Linked DNA regions of Homo sapiens. The protein of the gene in region 1 binds, or shares a complex with, the protein of each later gene. Each region holds a gene or a part of one and is shown in the gene's direction. Other genes may lie near its edges.

Region 1 (6,235 bases):
CAGACCACTGTCCTTCCGGAATGCATGCTCCACAGGCAGCCAGAGGGAGCCGCAAACATGGCGTGTTGGATTTCCATGCTGGTCCCTGGGGAGCGGAGAGCCACAGGCCTCTTCCCCTCCCTCTCCCTCTCCCTCCCTCCCTCTCTCCCCCTACCCTGTCTCTCTCTCTCCCCCCCCACTCTCTCTCCCTCCCTCTCTCCCCCCACCCTGTCTTTCTCTCTCCCTCCCCACCTCCCCCTCTCTCTCCCTCCCCCTCCTCCCCCTCCCTCTCCCCCCACCTTTTCTCTCTCCCTCCCCACCTCCCCCTCCCTCTCCCTCCCCCCTCACCTCCCCTCCCTTTCCCTCCCTCTCTCCCTCTCTCCTCCCCTCCCCCTCCCTCTCCCTCCCTCTCTCCCTCTCTCCTCCCCGCCTCCCCATCCCTCTCCCTCTCCCTCCTCTCTCTCTCCCCCTACCCTGTTTTCTCTCTCCCTCCCCGCCTCCCCCTCCCTCTCCCCCATACCCTATCTTTCTCTCTCCCTCCCTGCCACCCCCTCCCTCTCCCTCTCCCTCTCCCTCTCCCTCTCCCTCCCTCTCTCCCCACACCCTGTCTTTCTTTCTCCCTCCCCACCTCCCCTCTTCTCCCACCCCGGGGTCTGCGTGGAGGCCACTGCTCCGTCCCTGCTGAGGATTCTGCTGCACTCTGGCTCCTGCCTGTGGGAATCCGTCCTGTCTCTCTGGCTGGTGTCTCTCTGGCTGGCGTCCCTGCCCAGATGCCGCAGCTTGATGGGGATGCTCTTTCATTCCTTTATGCTGCTTGGGACAGGTGCGCTCCCAGAAGGGATCCTGTCGCCAGTTCTGGGGGAGCCCAGCCATGCTCTCCCCCTGCCCACCCCACAGAGCCCTCTCTGGACCTTGTGCCAGCACCCTGCTCCAGTGAATCTTTCAACCCTCTTCCCATTCACCAATTCTCTCTTCAGTGCTGTCCACACTGGAGTTGGTTCTGACCACTTTTGTAGTGTTTTTTTCCACTTAAATGATTGTATTTTTTACATCCAGGATTTGTAATTTTTAAAAATAGATGCCTGTTCATTTTACTCCTTAGACAGAAGCCAAATGTATTTCCTAACATTTTATCCATGCTGTCTCTGTGGATCCTGCACATATTTAAACATAGCCTAAGCGTACCTGTTTGCTCGTTATTTTTATCTCCCTGAGATGGATCCATGGGTCCACTGGCCCTGTTGATTTTCTGAGTCGTATTTCTTAGTGTGTTTGGGCCATGCGAGCTTGGGGATGTTGATTTCTAGGTTTGTTGGGGACAGAGGGCTTTCTCTTTGTGCTGTCAGCCTTGTGTTCTGGGCTCCCCCGTCCCCAGCTCTCCTTTCCTTGTCTACCAGATTTCAGTGGCCTTGGCCCAGCCCCACAGCCCCCAGCCAGGACTGTGGCCTTTCCTGGCAGCTGCTGGGGTCGTCCTGTGCTCTGAGGTGCCTCCAGGGTCAGGGCCGGTCAGCTGAGCAGCCCCAGGGCTCCAGACGGCACATGCTGAGGTCACCACAGCCGGCTCCACCCCTGCTCAGGCCGAGGTCCCCCAGGGAGGGGCTTGTCCCTGGTCTGGATCCTAGGGGACACTTTGATTCTCTGCTGGCCACCCCCAGAGTCACACAGCTCCAGGGTCAACCCAAACATCCGGACTTCCTCCGCCCCACTCGTCAGGGGAGGCATTGATCTTCTTTTTGAGACAGGGTCTTGCTCAGTCACCCAGGCTGGCGTGCAGTGGTGTAATCACAGCTCACTGCAGCCTCAACCTCCTGGGCTCAAATGATCCTCCTGACTCAGCCTCCTCAGTGGCTGGGACTACAGGCGCCCGCCACCACACTTGGCTAATTTTTGTATTTTTTGTAGAGACGGGGGTCTCACCATGTTGCCCAGGCTGGTCTTGAACTCCTGTCCTCAGGTGATCCACCCGCCTCGGCCTCCCACAGTGCTGGGATGACAGGCTTGAGCCACTGCACCCAGCCGGAGTATCATTTTTATGAATGATTTCAAACATGCAGAAAAATACAAAAACAATATACGAGGTACACACGTGCCCATGGCCTTGGACCCACAGACGTCACCATTCCCAGCCCACCCTTCTCCATGGACACCCCTCCCTCCCCTCCCCCAAGTCTCCCCTGTTCTCTCTCTGGGCCACAGTGGGGGGTTCCAGGGCCTGGGAGGGGGCTCAAAGCTCCGATGGGACTGGGCAGTGTCAGGTGGCTGCAGCCCCCATACGCTATGCCTCTGACCCGCCCACACCCCCCACCGCGGCTTCTCCTCCGGGCTGCAGGGTGTGCAGCCCCCGCCCGCAGTCCCCCCTCCTTCGCCCTGTGTGACTCCTGGGGCTCCGTGTGACCACTCTGTGTGGTTTGTGTGTTTGCTTCTCTGCAGCCGCCCCGTGGGGAGGGTGGTGTCTCTCTGGCCCTGTGCTGTGCCCCCGCCTGGGTTTACAGATGTCTGTCATTGCTGTGGGGGTGACGGTCCCTGCGCTGGCCTGGAGAGAGGTTCGGGGCCAACGGGCAGCGGGCACCCCGGTGAAAGTCCCTCGAGGCTGCGGTGGCGACACCACGTCCAGCCACTTCTCAGGTCGTCCTAGCCAGGTGCCATTCATCCCAGGCGGACAGGGGGCCGACCACCGGCCCCATCTCTCTCCACTGCCACCTCTCCCTGTGTGTCCCGGGAGGGGCCGCCCGCTGGGCCTCGGCTCCTTACCTGGTAGACGAGGGCAGCAGCACTGCAGGGCAGGCTCTGAGGGGCTTCAGGGAGACGCAGGTGCTGGCCTCAGACTCCAGGATGCTGCGGCCAGGCCAGGCGCCATCTGGGTGCAGGGGCGGCCACAGGGCAGCTGTCGCCATATCGACAGCAGCCGTCCGTCTGGGCTCCCGGGGCCACCTGCCCGCCGCTCCTTCCTCTCCTGGCTTATTTTCCAAACAATTTGCTTAACGTGATTCCCGGCCAAGCTAAACATGACTAATCGTGTTTACCCGGTGATCCCGCGCCTCCTGGCAGGCGGGGCTGGGGCCCAGGAGGAAGGAATGCCTGCATGTGCTGGTTCAGGGACTCACCACCCTGGCGTCCTCCCTTCTTCTCTTGCAGAGCCTGACGCACCCCAGGGCTGCCGCCATGGAGCCCCTGTTCCCAGCCTCCACGCCCAGCTGGAACGCCTCCTCCCCGGGGGCTGCCTCTGGAGGCGGTGACAACAGGACGCTGGTGGGGCCGGCGCCCTCGGCAGGGGCCCGGGCGGTGCTGGTGCCCGTGCTGTACCTGCTGGTGTGTGCGGCCGGGCTGGGCGGGAACACGCTGGTCATCTACGTGGTGCTGCGCTTCGCCAAGATGAAGACCGTCACCAACATCTACATTCTCAACCTGGCAGTGGCCGACGTCCTGTACATGCTGGGGCTGCCTTTCCTGGCCACGCAGAACGCCGCGTCCTTCTGGCCCTTCGGCCCCGTCCTGTGCCGCCTGGTCATGACGCTGGACGGCGTCAACCAGTTCACCAGTGTCTTCTGCCTGACAGTCATGAGCGTGGACCGCTACCTGGCAGTGGTGCACCCGCTGAGCTCGGCCCGCTGGCGCCGCCCGCGTGTGGCCAAGCTGGCGAGCGCCGCGGCCTGGGTCCTGTCTCTGTGCATGTCGCTGCCGCTCCTGGTGTTCGCGGACGTGCAGGAGGGCGGTACCTGCAACGCCAGCTGGCCGGAGCCCGTGGGGCTGTGGGGCGCCGTCTTCATCATCTACACGGCCGTGCTGGGCTTCTTCGCGCCGCTGCTGGTCATCTGCCTGTGCTACCTGCTCATCGTGGTGAAGGTGAGGGCGGCGGGCGTGCGCGTGGGCTGCGTGCGGCGGCGCTCGGAGCGGAAGGTGACGCGCATGGTGTTGGTGGTGGTGCTGGTGTTTGCGGGATGTTGGCTGCCCTTCTTCACCGTCAACATCGTCAACCTGGCCGTGGCGCTGCCCCAGGAGCCCGCCTCCGCCGGCCTCTACTTCTTCGTGGTCATCCTCTCCTACGCCAACAGCTGTGCCAACCCCGTCCTCTACGGCTTCCTCTCTGACAACTTCCGCCAGAGCTTCCAGAAGGTTCTGTGCCTCCGCAAGGGCTCTGGTGCCAAGGACGCTGACGCCACGGAGCCGCGTCCAGACAGGATCCGGCAGCAGCAGGAGGCCACGCCACCCGCGCACCGCGCCGCAGCCAACGGGCTTATGCAGACCAGCAAGCTGTGAGAGTGCAGGCGGGGGGTGGGCGGCCCCGTGTCACCCCCAGGAGCGGAGGTTGCACTGCGGTGACCCCCACCCATGACCTGCCAGTCAGGATGCTCCCCGGCGGTGGTGTGAGGACAGAGCTGGCTGAAGCCAGGCTGGGGTAGACACAGGGCAGTAGGTTCCCCACCGTGACCGACCATCCCCTCTAACCGTCTGCCACACAGCGGGGGCTCCCGGGAGGTAGGGGAGGTGGCCAGACCGGTGGGGGGCTCCGCCATGCCGTGCAAGTGCTCAGGGCCGCCTCACCCTCCATCTGGCCCCAGCCCATGCCGGCCTTCCCTCTGGGGAGCGACTTTTCCAGAAGGCCGGCCAGGCGAGAGGGTCTTCCTGACGGCGGAGCTGACCTGCCCGGCCCACCAGCTGCATGTCAGCTCCGAGCCACCGGGTCCCCGTCCAAGGCTGCTCTGCTAAGTTAAAGACACCCGAAAGCGCTTGACTCAGGTCCCCGGAGTCCCTGGCCAGGGCCCCAGCCCCTCGCTTGCCCTGCACTGTGTGGACTCTGGGGATGCAGGTGTAAGGGGAGTGTGGCTGGGCAGCCCCTGGTCAGCCAGGGTCACGCCTGTCCTGGGGGCCCCACCCTGCTGCCCGACACCCCCCATGGGAGGCTGCGGGCGGCAGTTGCTGTCTCAGAGAGGGGAGTGTGGGGGCTTGGGCGCTGGCCTAGCCAGGGGCGAGGTGGGGAGGCGGCTGGTGCAGAGGAGAGCTGGGGGCTGAGGTTGGGGTGAAGGCTGCAGCCCTCCAGGCTGCTGGGGGTGCAGATGGCTGTGCCGTGCTGAGATTGGCTCTGTCTGGAGGGGTCCAGTGTGGGGTGCCTGAGGGCACTAGGGAGAGGTGCTCCTGCTGCAGGAGGACCTGAGGGTCAGGGCTTGGAGAGGACAGGGAACCTGCGGCCGTCTCTTCTGCTTTGGGGCAGGGGCTCTGGCCCGGGAGAGGGAACGGGGACAGGAGCAGAGGACGGTCATCCAGGCGCAGCGGGGAGCTGCTCCCCAGGCCACAGCAGACAGCACTGCTGAGAGGCAGCGGCCGCGCGGGTGACGCAAATGGCAGGCCCTGGGAATCCCGCCGCCTCCCACCTAGAATTGTCCTACCTCCCCCACCCCAAACACCAGCTTTTCCTGGCGCCCCAGGCCCAGAACGTGGGCCCAGAGAGCCTTGCTGGGGTCTCTGGGGCACCTTGGCCTTGCTCTGAGGCTGGAAGGAGAAGGACCAGGGTGCGGCATCACTCGGCCTCAGGGACCCCTCTGCCCTGCCCAGCACTGGCCCCGACCCGTGCTCCCGCCGTCTGCCCAGAGCAGGACCTCAACCTCCTGGAGGGCACAGGGAGCGGCTGAGTGGGCACAAATCCTGGCAGGAGAAAGGCCCAGGCTGAGGCCAGGCCTGGGAAACATCCAAGCAGTGAGGACACGCGTGTTTGACAACTGCTCCCCTGAATAAATGCGAGGATAAATGTTTGATTCTTTCCCCGAGCAAATATTGTCCCTGGAGCCGAGTGCAGCCAGCGCAGAGTGAGCGGAGCCTGGGCTCCCCCGAGGCCCGACACAGGGCCCGCCCCCGGCCCCAGCCCCGCTGAGCCAGACAAGGCCGGGACGGGGGCGGCCAAATGCCCAGCAGGAAGCGGGAGGCGTGGAATTCGTGAACAGGGTGAAAAATGATGGAAGCTGCCTGGGGTCTTAGGCTGGAGCTGCCCCTCACAGCTTCTTGACAGCTCTGGGCGGGGCAGGGTGGGCTTCTGCAGGGGGTCCACAAATCTCTGCCTCTTGAGTCACCAAAGAGGGGTGCATCCAGGGTGCACTGGGGGAAACCGAGGCCCGTTCACACCGCAGCACCCCCCTCGACCTGCCTCCCCAGGGATTTGGGTGCCATGTTCACCCTCTCAGAAGGCTTTGGGGACCGAGCAGATGGCTCGGAAATCCCTGCCAAGATCAATTTCTCCAATTGATTTGACACCGGGCGCTCTCCC
Region 2 (7,477 bases), on another chromosome or scaffold:
CTAGTACGTTCAGCCAAAGGCCCGTATGTTAGCAGTTTCATTTTTGGATAAGCACTCTTTAAACTCCTTATTGGCCAGGTGCAGTGGCTTGTGTCTGTAGTCCCAGCAACTTGGAAGGCTGAGGCAGGAGATTCACTTGAGTCTGGGAGTTTGAGACCAGCCTGGGCAGCACAGTGAGACCCCATCTCTAAAAAAAGTAAAAAATAAGTTAGGCATGGTGATGCATGCCTGTAGACCCAGTTAGCTACTCAGGAGGCTGAGGCAGACGGTTGCTTGATCCCAGGAGTTCAAGGCTTTAGTGAGGTGACTGTGCTACTGCACTGCAGCCTGGGTGACAGAACAAGACCCCGACTCTAAAAAATAAAATAAATTCGGGAGGCTGAGGCAGGAGAATCGCTTGAACCCAGGAGGCAGAGGCTGCAGTGAGCCGAGATTGTGCCACTGCACTCCAGCCTGGGTGACAGAGTGAGACTAAGTCTCAAAATAAAATAAAATAAAGTAGAATAAAATAGATAAAATAAATAAATAATAAAACTCATCAAGAAGAGTTTAGGGAATAGATACTATAGACTTTCCAAAGGTTGAAAGATCTGGGTTTGCTTCTTGGGTTTGCAACCCTAGTAGCTGTATAACTTTCAGAGACTTTGTGCTTTTTTTTTTTCATTGAGACAGCGTCTCACTCTGTCACCCAGACTAGAGTGCAGTGGCACAATCATGACTCACTACAGCCTCCACCTCCCAGGCTAAAGTGATCCTCCTGCCTCAGCCTCCTGAGTAGCTGGGACTACAGGCATGCGCTACCATGCCTGCCTAATTTTTTAGTTTTTTTTGTGGAGATAGGGTCTCAGAATGTTGCCCAGGCTGGTCTCAAGCTCCTGAGCTGGACTCAAGTGATCCTCCTGCCTCAACCTCCCAAAGTGCTGAGATTATAGGCATGAGTCACTGCACCTGGCCTTTTCTTTTTTCTTTTCTTTTTCGAGATGGGCTCTTGCTGTGTACAGTGGTATATCACAGCTCACTGCAGCCATGAATTCCTGGGCTCAAGCAATCCTCCTGCCTCAGCCTCCCAAGTACCCAAGACTGCAGGTGTGTGTTACCACACCTGGCTAAGTTTTCTTTTCTTTTTGAGACAAGGTCTCACTTTGTCGCCCATGCTGGAGTACAGGGGCTCAATCTTGACTCACTGCAGCCTCTACCTCCCAAGCTCAGGTGATCCTCCTGCCTCAGCCCCCCAAGTAGCTGGGGCCACAGGTGTGTGCCACCATGTCCAGCTAGTTTTTTTTTTTGTTTTTTTTTTTGGTAGAGGTGAGGTTTTGCATGTTGCCCAGGCTAGTCTTGAACTCCTGGGCTCAAGTGATCCTCCTGCCTCAGCCTCCCAAAGTGCTGGGATTATAGGCATGAGTCACTGCACCCGGCCTTTTTTTTTTTTTTTTTTTTTTTGAGATGGGCTCTTGCTATGTCAGCCAGGCTGCAGTACAGTGGCATGATCACAGCTCACTGCAGCCACGAATTCCTGGGTTCAAGCAATCCTCCTGCCTCAGCTTCCCAAGTGCCCGAGACTGTAGGTGTGTGTTGCCACACCTGGCTAAATTTTTTCTTTTTTTTTTTTGTCATAAAGTCTCACTTTGTCACCCATGCTGTAGTGCAGTGGCACAATCTTGGCTCACTGCAGCCTTGACCTCCCATGCTCAGGTGATCCTCCTACCTCAGCCCCCTAAGTAGCTGAGACCACAGGTATGTGCCTCCACGTCCAGCTAATTTCTGTAGAGATGGAGTTTTGCCATGTTGCCCAGGCTGGTCTTGAATTCCTGGGCTCAAGCGAATCTCTCGCCTCAGCCTCCCAAGTAGTCAGGACTGCAGGTGTGCATTGCCATGCCTGGCTAAATTTTTGTTTTTTTTTGGTAGAGATGGGGTCTTGCTATGTTGCCCAGTCTGGTCTTGAACTCCTGGGCTTAAGTGATCCTCTTGTCTCCACCTCCTAAAGTTTGTCACCTTCTTGAAACAGTCATTATCAGTTCTCATGAAGCCTTCCCCAATTTGCAGCACATTCCCCTTTGCACACTTCTTCTCGCACTGAAAAATGTCCTTGTCTTTCATTTGTGTCTATGTATCCGATTTCTTTGAGGCTGCAACACCTCTGTCAGGGTGTGGGTGGTGTGGGTCCCTTGTGGTATTGCAAGTTCCATACTGGGTGCTCAGAATGTTTAATGAGCTCATTGAATAAAATTGGCACACTAGACTAACGATATAGGAAGCTGGTGAGGCCGGGTGTGGTGGTCTCATGCCTGTAATCCCAGCACTTTGGGAGGCTGAGATGGGTGGATCACTTGAGTTCAGAAGTTTGAGACCAGCCTGGCCAACATGGTGAAATCTCTACTAAAAATACAAAAATTAGCTGGGCGTGGTGGCTCCTGCCTGTAATCCCAGCTACTTGGGAGGCTGAGACAGGAGAATCCCTTGAACCTGGGAGGCAGAGGTTGCAGTGAGCTGAAGTTGTGCCACTGCACTCCAGCCTGGGTGACAGAGCAAGACTCCGTCTCAAAAACAAAAAGAAGCTGGCTGAACTGCTGTGAATGTCTCATCTGCAAATATAACTCAAAATTTTTAGTGTCATTTGTGGGAATTATTTTGGTACAGAAATAAAAGATGGGCCAGGTGCGGTGGCTCATGCCTATAATCCCAGCACTTTGGGAGGCCGAGGCGGGCGGATCACGAGGTCAGGAGATCGAGACCATCCTGGCTAACACAGTGAAACCCCATCTCTACTAAAAATACAAAAAAATCAGCCGGGCGTGGTGGTGGGCACCTGTAGTCCCAGCTACTCAGGAGGCTGAGGCAGGAGAATGGTGTGAACCTGGGAGGCGGAGTTTGCAGTGAGCTGAGATCGAGCCACTGCACTCCAGTCTGGGCAACAGAGTGACTCCATCTCAAACAAAAAAAAACAAAAAACAAAATAAATAAAAGATGAAGCAACATACGATGTATAAGCCTCTGGCCAGCAGGCCATGCTGATCTTACCTAGGATTTTAACATAAGCAAAAAGACTGTGACAAATTCAAGATTGAGATTTCCCTGCTGAAGGTGTAAACCAGGACTTTGGAAAACTGAAAACAAACATGTTCACTTCTAGAAAGTGCCGGCAGTTTTGGGTTGCGTTACCTCAATTTATAGCCTTGCCTTGGATGCTGGTCATCTGTAGCAGGTTTGGGTGGATGTTTCAGATTTTACTCGGTGTCTCGTTGGGCAAAGGGGTCTGTGCATTTGTCTGTGTGATTCAGCAATGAGGGCCTGTGAGGAAGAACCAGCAGGTGGCACAGAGAGGGACTCCATGGTCTGCACTCTCAGCAGTGGTGCCAGCCTCAGGAGGAGAGAGAGCCCTGGGAGCTGGCCAAGGGCAGGGCCGGGCACTGCTTCCCAAACTGACTGTGCCCTGCAGTAACAGCACATCTCACACCTGACACACACAATGCGAATCATTATTTATCCTTACTACGGGTGATGCACACTAATTTTAATTTCATTCGAAAGGAAAGTACTGGCCTATGACCCACAAGTGGGTGGTCAGGAGCAGTTTAGAAAACACTGGACCAGGCCGGGCGCGGTGGCTCACGCTTGTAATCCCAGCACTTTGGGAGGCCAAGGCGGGCAGATCATGAGGTCAGGAAATTGAGACCAGCCTGGCTAACATGGTGAAACTCTGTCTCTACTAAAAATACAGAAAATTAGCTGGGCATGGTGGCCAGCGCCTGTAGTCCCAGGTACTTGGAGGCTGAGGCAGGAGAATTGCTTGAACCCGGGAGATGGAGATTGCAGTGAGCCAAGATCATGCCACTGTACTCCAGCGTGGGTGACAGAGCGAGACTCCATCCAAAAACAAAAAGAAAACACTGGTCCAGGCTGGGGGCAGTGGCTCACACCTGTAATTCCAGCACTTTGGGAGGCCGAGGTGGGTGGATCACCTGAGGTCGGGAGTTCGAGACCAGCATGACCAACATGGAGAATCTCCGTCTCTACTAAAAATACAAAATTAGCCAGGCGTGGTGGCACATGCCCGTAATCCCAGCTACTCGAGAGGCTGAGGCAGGAGAATCACTTGAACCCGGGAGCCAGAGGTTGCGGTGAGCCGAGATCACACCATTGCACTCCAGCCTGGGCAACAAGAGCGAGACTCCATCTCAAAAAAAGAAAACACTGGACCATCAAGAGTTCGAGACCAGCCTGGCCAACGTGGTGAAACCCTGTCCCTACAAAAAATACAAAAATTAGCCAGGCATGGTGGCGGGTGCCTGTAATCCCAGCTACTCGGGAGGCTGAGGCAGGAGAATCACTTGAACCCAGGAGGCGGAGGTTGCAGTGAGTTGAGCGCGCCATTGCACCCCAGCCTGGGTGGGCCAGAGCCCGGCTGCCCCAGGGCCAGCAGTGCCTGGGTGCTTGTTGGAAATGCAGCTCTCAACTCCTCCCTGCCCCAGTGCATCAGGACCTGCCTGCAAAGTGATCCGTCTGCACTTCAGTTTGAGAAGGCCTGGCCTAGAGGACAGTGGGTCTGGCATGCTGGGCTGAGAGGCAGTACTGGGAGCGATTCTTGGGGCCTCCTTGCCGACAATTGGGTGAAACCAGCGGATACGATCGTAGCGTCTCTGAGCCCCCATTGCCTCCTTGTTTCTCTGCCCATAGTAGAAGAATGTCTCTGAAATTACTGGATGAGTTTCAGTCATACTTTCACATGGGCACAATTTCACATTCAAGCTCCTTATCCTAGGCTAATTTTATATTATGTTAAATCACTTGTTTTTGTTCTCACGGCTTCCTGCCTGCTATAGGCATAATTACGAGGAAGCAGAACTTCTCCAGAAGCAAGCGCACATGCGTTCCAAAATAAGAGCAAATTCGCTCTAAACACAGGAAAAGACCTGAAGCTTTAATTAAGGGGTTACATCCAACCCCAGAGCGCTTTTGTGGGCACTGATTGCTCCAGCTTCTGCGTCACTGCGCGAGGGAAGAGGGAAGAGGATCCAGGCGTTAGACATGTATAGACACAAAAACAGCTGGAGATTGGGCTTAAAATACCCACCAAGCTCCAAAGAAGAGACCCAAGTCCCCAAAACATTGATTTCAGGGCTGCCAGGAAGGAAGAGCAGCAGCAGGGTGGGAGAGAAGCTCCAGTCAGCCCACAAGATGCCATTGTCCCCCGGCCTCCTGCTGCTGCTGCTCTCCGGGGCCACGGCCACCGCTGCCCTGCCCCTGGAGGGTGGCCCCACCGGCCGAGACAGCGAGGTGAGTACAGTCCCGACGTGGCCACACGCTAGCCCACTCTCTGTCTCTTGTTGGCTTTTTGGCCTGCATGGTGTGTGTGTGTGCACGTGTGTTGCACTTCACAGCTTGGACAGGACACACGGCTCAACTTTGTAGTGTTCTTGGCTGGCCCGAGGTACTGGGATGCCGCATTCAGACCACTGATCCTCAGTTACATGTCCCAACCCATGAAGCCTGCTGGAAACCTGTGCAGCTCAAGGAGGGCCCTCCGTCGGGTGTCTGGGAAAGGGGAAGCGAGTGTACCCGTCCACTGCAGGGCAGGCATGGAGCTGCGACAGCCCTTCCAGAGCCTTCAGTTATACATAGCACAGGCTCCCACTGGCTCAGAGTAATTGGCATCATTACATTTTCCGTTGTGAGAATTTGTAACTTCGTGAGGTGATTGATTGTTCTTTTTTCCATTTTGAGAAAGTTCCAAGAAAGGGTATATAAAGTTGAGCATTAAAAATGGATTTTTCTCTAAAATTACCAGATGAGTTTCAGGCAGGCCATTTATCAGCAGATTACTCCCAGAAGCTTTCTAAGGAATTTGAAAAACCAGAATATAACGTTTGTTTCAGTCCCATCGTCTCAGAAAGCAACTTGTGAACATCCAGGAGTGTGGCCAAAGGTGGGAGAATGAGTAAATTAGCCTGATCCAACTCCGGGCTTCTCAGCTGCCAGTCACTGAGGGGAAAATGGCAGATTTCCCGACCTCTCCTAATTAAGGACCTTAGCAGAGTATGGAGCAAAACCAGGTTTCTTCCCTTGACTTAAAATGACCAACTTTTCTCTAATTAAAGCAATTTCTTTAAGGTATTCTCTTCACTTTCTCATCCTCATCCGTTAAATGGAAATGAGGCTTATCGCTATGGAGCATCTTTTCATTTTAATATTTTCTTTCTCTTTTCTCCAGGGTAGTCTTTTAGATCATTTTTTTTTTTAAGTAAGGAGGAGATTGCATATCTTTGAATGCTTGCTGCCTGAGCCAGATTGCTGAGTTTTCTTTCCTTTGCCATCTGCTTCTCTTTAAAAGCATATGCAGGAAGCGGCAGGAATAAGGAAAAGCAGCCTCCTGACTTTCCTCGCTTGGTGGTTTGAGTGGACCTCCCAGGCCAGTGCCGGGCCCCTCATAGGAGAGGAAGCCCGGGAGGTGGCCAGGCGGCAGGAAGGCGCACCCCCCCAGCAATCTGCGCGCCGGGACAGAATGCCCTGCAGGAACTTCTTCTGGAAGACCTTCTCCTCCTGCAAATAAAACCTCACCCATGAATGCTCACGCAAGTGTAATGACAGACCTGAATAAAATGTATTAAGCAGCAGTGATCTTTCCTCTCCTCCTTCCCAAGTCATTTGAAAAGTGTTTGTTATTTAAATTCCAATAATGCCCAATACTGACGTGTCTTGAGTAATTTGGAACCCAAAGTGAAGATCTTTGATAAAGATTTTTTTGTGGTTCGACTGGACTGTGCTGAGTGCGGGCACTGGGCTTTTCTTCTGATGTTCATTATGGTGCTGGGAAGCTCTGTCTTTGATTTAAAATAAAATAGCTAAAGGCTACACAATTAAGAGTTCAGAATAACATCTTATTTCAGTTTATGAATTGATATGAATTGTCTAATTTAAAAAATATTTCCCTCACATTAAAAGCAAATTTTTAATATCAGGCTCGAAGAGCAAAATGATTATTCCTCATGTTTTAGCTGAAATTAATTTTAAAACATATTAAACAGAAAACCTGCTGACATGCCTGTGAAACTGATACTCGAACTTGCTGTTATGTACCAGTTTTAATTAGTAGCTTAATGGGTTGCAATTCTTTTCATGGATTATAGCTTCAGATTTGCTTTGGGAGGAATGAAGGCTACCCACAGAATTTTTTTTTTTTTGAGACGGAGTCTAGCTGTCACCCAGGCTGGAGTGCTATGGCGCGGTCTCAGCTCACTGCAACTTCCGCCTCCCAGGTTCATGTGATTCTCCTGCCTCAGCCTCCTGAGTAGCTGGGACTACAGCATGCGCTTCCATGCCTGGCTAATTTTTTTTTTTTTTTTTTTAGATGGAGTTTCGCTTTTGTTGCCCAGGCTGGAGTGCTATGGCACGGTCTCAGCTCACTGTGGCTTCCGCCTCCGAGGTTCAAGTGACTCTCCTGCCTCAGCCTCCCAAGTAGCTGGGACTACAGGCACACACC

Evidence for each region.
Region 2: the proteins of SSTR5 (region 1) and CORT are in contact, whole or in part, in a cryo-EM structure (PDB 8X8L), measured with the Homo sapiens proteins. Residues at the interface, in NP_001044.1 of Homo sapiens: Tyr89, Leu96, Gln99, Asn100, Ser103, Asp119, Gln123, Glu182, Thr185, Cys186, Asn187, Ala188, Trp190, Gly198, Phe201, Ile202, Thr205, Phe264, Phe265, Asn268, Asn271, Glu279, Ala283, Tyr286, Phe287, Val290, Tyr294; in NP_001293.3 of Homo sapiens: Cys93 (codon at 6,506), Arg94 (codon at 6,509), Phe96 (codon at 6,515), Phe97 (codon at 6,518), Trp98 (codon at 6,521), Lys99 (codon at 6,524), Thr100 (codon at 6,527), Phe101 (codon at 6,530), Ser102 (codon at 6,533), Ser103 (codon at 6,536).

Annotation. Positions count from the first base shown.
Region 1 is NC_000016.10:1,075,728-1,081,962, forward strand, and holds the end of SSTR5 (somatostatin receptor type 5), read left to right. Parts: intron 1-1,896; exon of another isoform or gene 1,897-1,985; intron 1,986-2,730; exon of another isoform or gene 2,731-3,004; intron 3,005-3,098; exon of another isoform or gene 3,099-3,114; 5' UTR 3,115-3,141; coding exon 3,142-4,236; 3' UTR 4,237-5,727; downstream 5,728-6,235.
Region 2 is NC_000001.11:10,445,049-10,452,525, forward strand, and holds CORT (cortistatin preproprotein), read left to right. Parts: upstream 1-4,982; 5' UTR 4,983-5,175; coding exon 5,176-5,274; intron 5,275-6,328; coding exon 6,329-6,547; 3' UTR 6,548-6,950; downstream 6,951-7,477. Other genes in the region: CENPS-CORT (APITD1-CORT protein), read left to right, coding at 6,329-6,547. UniProt on the Homo sapiens protein: Binds to all human somatostatin receptor (SSTR) subtypes. It also inhibits cAMP production induced by forskolin through SSTRs.